2 separate regions of the Homo sapiens genome follow, and region 2 is linked to region 1. The links come from fine-mapping of genetic effects on gene expression. A gene starts in region 1. The other region holds a variant in brackets. All regions are shown on one strand. Distances are between the middles of the regions. Region 1 holds the start of LINC00239 (long intergenic non-protein coding RNA 239). Region 2 overlaps MEG8 (maternally expressed 8, small nucleolar RNA host gene).

Evidence for each region.
Region 2: its variant is fine-mapped to the expression of LINC00239 in Th1 cells (Schmiedel 2018, PIP 0.95).

The regions. Positions count from the first base shown.
Region 1 is chr14:101,728,393-101,732,792 of GRCh38, forward strand. It overlaps LINC00239 (long intergenic non-protein coding RNA 239), which reads left to right and starts at 2,045. Exons shown (of 4, transcript NR_026774.1): 1 at 2,045-2,095; 2 at 2,965-3,076; 3 at 3,396-3,584; 4 at 3,844-4,133. It overlaps LINC02320 (long intergenic non-protein coding RNA 2320), which reads right to left and starts at 2,914. Exons shown (of 6, transcript NR_184269.1): 1 at 2,662-2,914. RefSeq lists enhancers at 2,480-3,679, 2,722-2,781, 3,512-3,611.
Region 2 is chr14:100,914,206-100,918,605 of GRCh38, forward strand. The region is part of intron 9 of MEG8 (maternally expressed 8, small nucleolar RNA host gene); the gene reads left to right. Among named protein-coding and RNA genes, the nearest start is that of MIR370, 5.3 kb to the left of the region's middle. The variant T/TC (reference allele first, on the strand shown) is at 2,512.

The DNA.
Region 1 (4,400 bases):
GGCAACGTGAGAACGGACTAATAAAATCTCTCTCTCCCTTTCTGCTCTCCTTTATAGCAAGACTCTTTGGAAGTATCCATCTGGGCCAGAGTGCAGTGGCATACTCACAGCTCACTGCAGCCTCGATCTCCTGAGCCCAAGCAATTCTCGCACCTCAGCCTCTTAGTAGCTGGGACTACAGGTGTGCACCACCACTCCCCGCTAATTTGTAAAAATTTTTTGTAGGCCGGGCGCAATGTCTCATCCCTGTAATTGCAGCACTTTGGGAGGCCGAGGTGGGCGGATCACCTGAGGTCAGGAGTTGGAGACCAGCCTGGCCAACATGGTGAAACCTTGTCTCTAGTAAAATACAAAAAATTAGCCAGGTGTGTTGGCGGGCACCTGTAATCCCAGCTACTCAGGAGGCTGAATGAAGAGAATTGCTTGAACCTGGGAGGTGGAGGTTGCAGTGAGCTGAGGTTGCACCACTGCACTCCACCCTGGGCTACAGAGCGAGACTCTGTCAAAAAAAAAAAAAATTAAAAAAAAAATTTGTAGAGACAGAGTCTTGCTATGTTTCCCAGGTTGCTCTGGAACTCTTGGCCTCAAGCAATCCCTACCTCAACTTCCCAAAGTGCTGAGCTTATAGGTGTGAGCCCCTGCACCCAGCTGGAAGTATCTATTCTTATTATCTTCAATTTTTCTCCTCCCATTTTCTCTTGAACCTTTTCAATCAGTATTTGCCTCCTACCACCACATTGAAGCCCTCCAGTGGCTTCCCTATTTCATTTGGGATAAAATCCAAAGTCTTGGCCAGGTGCGGTGGCTCATGCCTGTAATCCCAACACTTTGGGAGGCCAAGGTGGGCAGATCACTTAAGCTCAGGAGTTCAAGACCAGCCTGGGCAACATGGTGAAACCCCATCTCTACAAAAAGTACAAAAATTAGCCATGTGTAGGGGCGCATGGCTGTAATCCCAACTACTTGAGGTGCTGAGGCAGGAGGATTGCGTGAACTTGGGAGGTCGAGGCTGTAGTGAGCCAAGATCATGCCACTGCACTCCAGCATGGGTGACAGAGCGAGACCTTGTCTCAAAAAAGAAAAATAAAGCCAGAGTCTTCGCAGTGCCCACAAGACCCTACGTGACCTGATCTCCCATGACTCATTGCTCCTCGACAGCCACCACTCCGTTCCATGGAGTAGCCCAGGCCAACTGCTCTGCAGCCAAACTCAGGGAAACTTGGAGAACATGTGTGGACCAGAGGACCCCTTCCTCCTGGCTACCAAAAGAACCCCCAAATCCTGCAGCCCACCAGCTGTGTGCCCAGACACAATCTGGAGTAGAGGAGTAGACAGTGGCAGCCATCAGAAGCCCCACTGGCCAAACACTTCAGCCTCAGAATGCTGAGCTGCTCAAAGAACTGGTTAAATGTTTGTATTAGACCAAGGTTACTAGAATGGATGTTTCTCCCCATTGTATTACCCAGCAGAGAGTACCTTTCAAGAAAGATCAGATTAATTAAGTAGGAAAATGAAGACACTCTATTTTCTTTGCACATCTGATGTATTGTGAGTGATTTTGTGACCCTGCTACGTGCACGCATATGCACAGAAAAAAAATATCTTAGAATGTAGACCAAAATATTAACAGTGGTTATGGATGAGTGATGGATGAGTGAACTAACTATAGATTTGGAAGGATATTGTCTGTTTTAAAAGAAAATGAACACTTTCACTCCCAAACAAGACGGAATGTAGAGACTGGATTTCCTCTCCTGCCTGAAAAAGTCAAAATAAATTGGACCAAATATATAAAACAAGAGTTCTCAAGACACTGGATGATATGGTTTTGCTATGTCCCCACCCAAATCTCATCTTGAATTGTAGCTCCCATAATTCCCATGTGTTGTGGGAGGGACCTGGTGGGAGATATTTGAATCATGGGGGTGGTTTCCCCCATACTGTTCTCGTGGTAGTGAACAAGTCTCACGAGATCTGATGGTTTTATAAGGGGTTTCCCTCTCCACTTGGTTCCATTCTCTCTTGTCCACCACCATATAAGATGTGCCTTTCACCTTCTGCCATGATTGTAAGGCTTCCCCAGGCCCGTGGAACTGTGAGTCCATTAAACCTATTAAACCTGTTTTTCCTTATAATTTACCCAGTCTCGGGTATGTCTTTATCAGCAGCATGAGGACAGACTAATACACTGGATATCAGGTAACTAGGCACAATGATTTCTGAGAATGTGGAAAATAAAGTGAGCCTGCAATTAACCCAGCTTCCTTTCTTGAGAGGGTTTCCAAGCTACAGTATGGACAAGGGTACCCAGGTGGGGCCTGGCAGGCTCTTCGAGTTGGGAAGACAGAGCTGAGAGTCCAGGGAGACTCTGGTCACAGGTAGGGGCAGGGGGGTGATGCTGAGAGCCCCTGGGGCATGCCTGCCCTCTACAAAGCTCGTGGTTGAATGCAGGGAGGTGGTCTGGGGGTGGACTTGGGCAATGGGGAGGCTGCATGGGTTAGAGCCAAGCTCTCCCCTCTTCCAGTCTGTCTGGGCCTCTGCAGCTCCCGGTAACTTTGCACTGATTCCAGAGACAGTGATTGCTCAGGTACCCAGGTCTGGGTGTAATTAAAAAAAAAACAAAACAACAACAACAACAACAACAACAACAAAAAACCAAACCTGGCTCTTGGTGCTTTCAGAGATGGCTCAGAGCAGGAATTCTCTAGCTTTGGGGTGCATCCTCAGAGGTGGGGGGGGGCTTGCTGAAAAGACAGGTGTATGGTCCCACCTCAGGCCTGCTGAACAGAAGCTCTGGAGCAGGCTCAGGAGTTTCTTTTCTAACAGGCTCCCCGAGAGATCCTAGCAAATGTTTGCACAACACTCACTTGGAAGCTATGTGACCAAAACCATGATCACAGGGTTGTCCCTGAACACGGTGGGGAAATAACCTCTCCCTTAAATCTCCCCTGCGTGGTGACTTAGGGGAGGAGCCGGAAGAGAGCAGTGCTTCACAATAAAAGGAAGAATTGCTTGAACGGAGGCGTTTCAGGCATGAGTCACAGGCCGGGTGTGGAAGAGGAAAGTGTGAAGCAAGGTAGGCTTCCCAGCACCCCTCCATGCACAGCAGGGGCTGGCCAGCCTCAGCCAGGCCAGATGGAGCCCTGGAGGGTGGGGCTGGCTGCCCAGCTAGAGTGTCTCCTTTTACTTCCAGCAGGAAAAAAAGGCCTCCTGTCAATAGCAGAATCATCTACGTTTTCCCTGCCTTCCTCACTTAAATGCTTTCGAGGAGTGGGAGGAAGAAATTGGAGGCTGGAATGAATACCCTTTGCCCTCCTCTGAAAGCAGCCTGGGAGGGGTGACGGGGTGTAGGAGCAGAGACTTCAAGTGGCCCCCACCTGCCAAACCATTCTCAGGGACAGGTACCAGCTGGGATGTTGGCAGCAGCCGCTCCCCTGCAAGGAGAACCTCCCACTTCCTGTCCCGCACACCTGCCTCATTGGAAAGTGACGCACCCACTGTTTGGCCTCGGCAGCCTGATGTTTCTCATCACACAGGAAGACGGTCATGCTACAGGAAGACCTCGGACTTTGCATCCAGCAGATGTGAGTTCAAATTCCAGCTTTGTAATTTGCAAGCTCAGAGGTGGATTTGCTGGGAAGCTAAACAAGCTTACCTGCAGAGCCCCCAGCTTGCATGGGCCCCTCCCAAGACCTTAACCTCATTTTGTATTCATAATTTTGTAGTCTTTTCCCTTCAAAAGGCAGCCCAAATTTAAAAGCATTAAGCCCCACAAGACCTGAGTCCACCTAGGAGGTGGGAGATATCCCTTGCAGCATGAGAATAATAATTACCACCTCGTAGGGTTGTTCTAGAGATTGTCAGACCGAGACCACGCCACACACCCAGAAGGCACCCAAGTCACAGAGCCTGATATTGTTCCTGGAGCGCCATTGCATCATCCTTGACCACAAGATCTGCGTCATTGGATTTGTCTCAAAAACTTGGGACTCTGGAGATAAAACCTCATTGCAAGGCTACCTTTGCCACTGTATCTTAGCAGCTTTTGAAGCAAAGCATTTCAATATTTAGACACTGTGTTTCTAATGGGTACTGGGATCAAAATAATAAAAACTCAGTCTGCAAAGGGAGAAGAATAGAAACCAGCAGATTTATTATTTCACAGAATGTTCCTCTCCTCTCAGGTAAACATGCCTAATAATATCTGCTTAACTAATGAGCACCCGCATTGTCAGTGGGGCCTTGACTCTGACGACGTAATGCATTTCTGTGCCATTGCACCCCCCACCCATCTCGGAGAGCATCTGAAAATTAAGTGGGGCAGATGTAATTATGCATCTAATATGCAAGGTACATGTGCATGTAGAAGTGTGCATTGTGTAAACAACTGTATCAAATCA
Region 2 (4,400 bases), 810 kb before region 1:
GTTCTTTCATGATTTTTGTTTAAAGCGATAAATAAAACTTAAAAGGGCCAAGCATAGATAATGAGGATAATATTTCATGTAAAGTGAGGCTTATTAATTAAATTCTACACAAGTAAAAGTCATTAAAAATGATCCAGGGTGTTTATTTTTCTAATAGTTGCTGTTTGTTGCACAGAATGGACAAATCATAGTTTATATAGTCATGCAGTATTTATGAGAATGTTGACTCTTACTTGGGTAGATAAGGTACTTAAAGAAAATGTAATTAATAGTTGATGTTGTTAAATCTTGGCTGGAGAGTTGTTTAAGGGTGTTCATAAATGAGTAAATGAATGAATGAACAAACACATGAATAAAACAAGAGAGGGCAAACATGGGACAAAGGTGATCATATCTCATTGTCGTAAATTCTTTTTATGTAGCTTCAGCATCCGTTTTCAACCTAAGTTTAACTTTCTCATTCCAGAAGCAGGCTTAGTCACCCTTGACACAGTTTGCAGTTATCCACCTCCTCCAAGTTCTTAATATGTTAGATCCAGATAACTGCCTTGTACAGCCACCTCCAGGATACTGCCTCCCTAAAAAACAGCTAGATACACTGACCCCACAGCCTATGTGGACCACACAGATATAGTGGCTTGCTCTAAATGCACCAGTGAGAACTCTCTGCAGGAAACCTGCTTGGGAAATGCCATAGCCTGCAATACAGGCTTTCCCCTTCCCGCTGGCCCTGTGAGGCATGCAGGATCTGTAAGTAATAAACTGCTTCTGTTGTTTCATTTCATGTGTTTTGTTGAGTTGCTTCCTCTGTGTCTCACCTGACCAACACACTTGAATTGAACTTCTTTCCTGGTCAGGGATCTCCTAGAGAATGGCTATCTTGGCAGGAATAGACTAGATGTAGGTCAGACAAGAACCACAGGGGTACTGCCAGTGTAAATGAGTTTCCTATGAGAGGGACACCTGGTAATGGATAGGATGCTTAGGCATTAGACTGTCTGCTGGGATAAAGACGTATCCCATAAAAGATACGCTGTAAACACCCATGACCACCTCTCCTGCATCCCCATCAGGCAGAGCTAGAATTTATATTCACTCTCTTGAGACAGACCTCAAGACCATGTTAGAAGAAAGTACAACACTCATCATCCTAGAATTATGATTATTCCAATTCAGTTCATCCAAGGTCCCTTTAAAAATGCATTGGTTAAAGAGTCAGTTAATATTCTTTTTTTTGGCATGGTGGCATGTTGGATGTTGATTTTAGTACTAAAAATAAATAAATAATTACCTAAGTGTGTAAAATAAACAAAAGGCCAAAACATGGACTGGTGATGAGAATGGTCCAAGAATGAAAGCATTATAGTTAATTAAATTCTGACTGCCACACAAATAACCTACCCTGTTTCACTTCCTTTACCAGCTGTTTTGTATTTCATTTTGTACATGAACATAGTTTATTTACACGTTTGCCCATAAATAGAAATCTGGGCTATTTACTCTGACCAAGGAGCACACAAAGAGATGAAAGATGACGTCAGTGTTCTATTAGTGGAGTAACAGATTGGATTTATGATTGCTCATTGCAACTTCTTTAGAAATGATCAAATCAAATAAAAGAGTGTCAGCATAAACCAATGATGATGTTTCATGAAGCAGAGATCATGATTAATCCAATTAGGTTCATTAGAAAAAGTTCTAGAATATAACCTAAGAGTATTTTCTAGTATTGCCCAATGGAACTTTCTTTCTTTTTTTTTTTTTTTGCCTTGAGACAGGTCTCACTCTGTTGCCCAGGCTAGACCTCCCTGTGCTCAGGTGATCCTCCCACCTCAGCCTCCTGAGTAGCTAGGACTACAGGTGTGCACCACCATACCCAGCTAATTTTTGTATTTTTTGTGGAGACAGGGTTTCTCCATGTTGCCCAGGCTGGTCTTGAACTCCTAGGCTCAAGCAGTTCACCGGCCTTGGCTCCCAAACAGCTGGTTACAGGTGCAAGCCACCATACCCGTCCGCAGTAGAACTTTCTGCAGTGATGGAAATGTTCTGTAATCTGTTCTGTACAGTATGGTAGCTACTAGTCCATGTGATTATTGAGTCCTTGAAATGTGGCTGGCGTTCATGAGTAACTGAATTTTTAATATTACTTAATTTTTATTAATTTAAATTTAAATAGTCACATGTGGCTACTGGCCCATGCAAGTCTGATATCCAGTGGGGCAGTCAAATTTTAAAGCTACTACATTAGTCAGTTGTGTTAGGTGGTTGGTTCATGGCAGTTTTTTGAATATTAAATATGAATACATAAATACAAAAGTTAAATAAAAGCCTAAGCATGGACCAGTGATGAAAGTGTGTCATGAACCAAATATTATATCCATACATTTCTCAACAGATGAAGTCCATTATGTAAAGGTTTCTGTTTCTCCAGTTATGGTTAAGGATGAAAAGATTATCTATCTATCTATCTATCTATCTATCTATCTATCTATCTATTCATCTATCTATCTA[T/TC]TATCTATCTATCTATCTATCTATCTATCTTTCTATCTATCTACCTACCCACCTATCTATTATATATCTATCTATCTCTATAATATACTACTGTTTTTCTTGGTTTTGATGGTAGATTCGTGGTGTTTTACTTGATTATGTTATAAAAATCAATAAGTGAATACATTTTTAAAATTCAAAGACCTTAAATAAATAGGTTATCTGTCTTCTATATGGTAAATATTCTATAGACACGAAGGTCACAAGAACCACTCCCACTTACAAAAAGAATAGGAGGCACTGAGCAGTGCCACCCCACGGCAACTCCGTAGTCCTGCTGGGCAGATGATGTGGGCTCTCCTTACCTGGGCCTGTCACTCATATAAGTGGGGACACATAGAGAGGGGTTTGTAATGGTCATCATTCTCATTTTTATTTTAGGTGATTCACTCCATGGTGTTCATTAAGTTAATAATTAAAATAATCAATTGATTAAGTCAATTAAGAATGAAGTGTTAATTGTGGGTCAGTGGTGAGAAAGAGGGCCAGCCATGGACCAATGTTGAGAATGTGGCACAAGCCAAGGATTATGGTCAATCCAGTATATTAAAATTTTAATATTTCTTTAAAAAGTTTAAATCTAGTCTCTTTCACACCTTTTCACACCTGCTTTCTCTTCTACAGAGTGAGTGCACCGCAGGTGATCAGCTATTCTGTAATGATGAGGGCCGGGCTGCTTTCTCTGTGGGCAAGGAGCATGGAGGCTGATGACAGGACAGTCAGGGTCCTTGTTCTTGGTTTGGATGATTTGCTCATGGATGTTGACTGTATTATTTAAAAGAAATAAATAGCTCTACATATTAAAATATTGCAGAACATGCATGGACCAATGATGAGAATGTTATATGAATCAGTGTTCATGATTAATCCAATTCAACACCACTTCTATTAAGAGTACAGTCAGGCTATTTTATTTGTGCTGCTGGCAGTTTAATATTCATATACATTTTACATCACTGTTGATTTAAACAGTCCTCCATTGATATACACCTATGCCATTAACTGCTTAAGAGGGTATCACAAAGGAAGATTGAAAGTAATTATCAGTATTCTATTGGGCAAGAAGATGGTGGATTTATAGTAGCTCATTGTGTCATCTTTGAAATATAGACAAATTAAAAGAAAGAGGGCTAAGGATGGGCCAGTGATAACTGTGGCATTGCTATGTATGAAGAATGTTGATTGATCCATTGATCCATGTGTGTCATACTGAGATGCGTTATAGGAAGAGATCTAGTGTATTATCTCTGTGGGAAATTAGATTATAGACATGCACAGTCTAGTATCATCAGTGCTAGCCACTGGAGCTACTGTGCACTTGGAATGTGACTAGTCTAATCGACATGTGATCTACATGGAAAAATACACACCGAGTTTAGAAGCCTCAATATGAAAAAGGTAAAATATTTCTAGAATTATTTATATTTATTAAATGATAGTATTTTAGATATTGGGCTAAATAAAATACACAATTACAGTTGATTTCATCTTTTTCTTTTTACTTTTTAAATATTGTAGCTTCTAGAAAATTTACAAGTATTCGTGTAGGTGGCATTATATTTTTTATTGCTCAGCACTGCTATAATCCAATGAGAGGAATATTCAATTTTATGTTTTTCTAATCCATGGGTACTGATTGTATTATTATTGGCTAATCAGTGATGAATCAATGACAAGTGAATAAATGAATGAGAAAAAAATGGGAACAGCACATGCTAAACATTAAAGTGTATACTGCTGAAACAAGGATTATTTTCCTTTTTTTTTTTTTTTTTTGAGACAGAGTCTCACTCTGTCACCCAGGCTGGAGTGCAGTGGCGCAGTCACAACTCACCACAGCCTCGACCTCT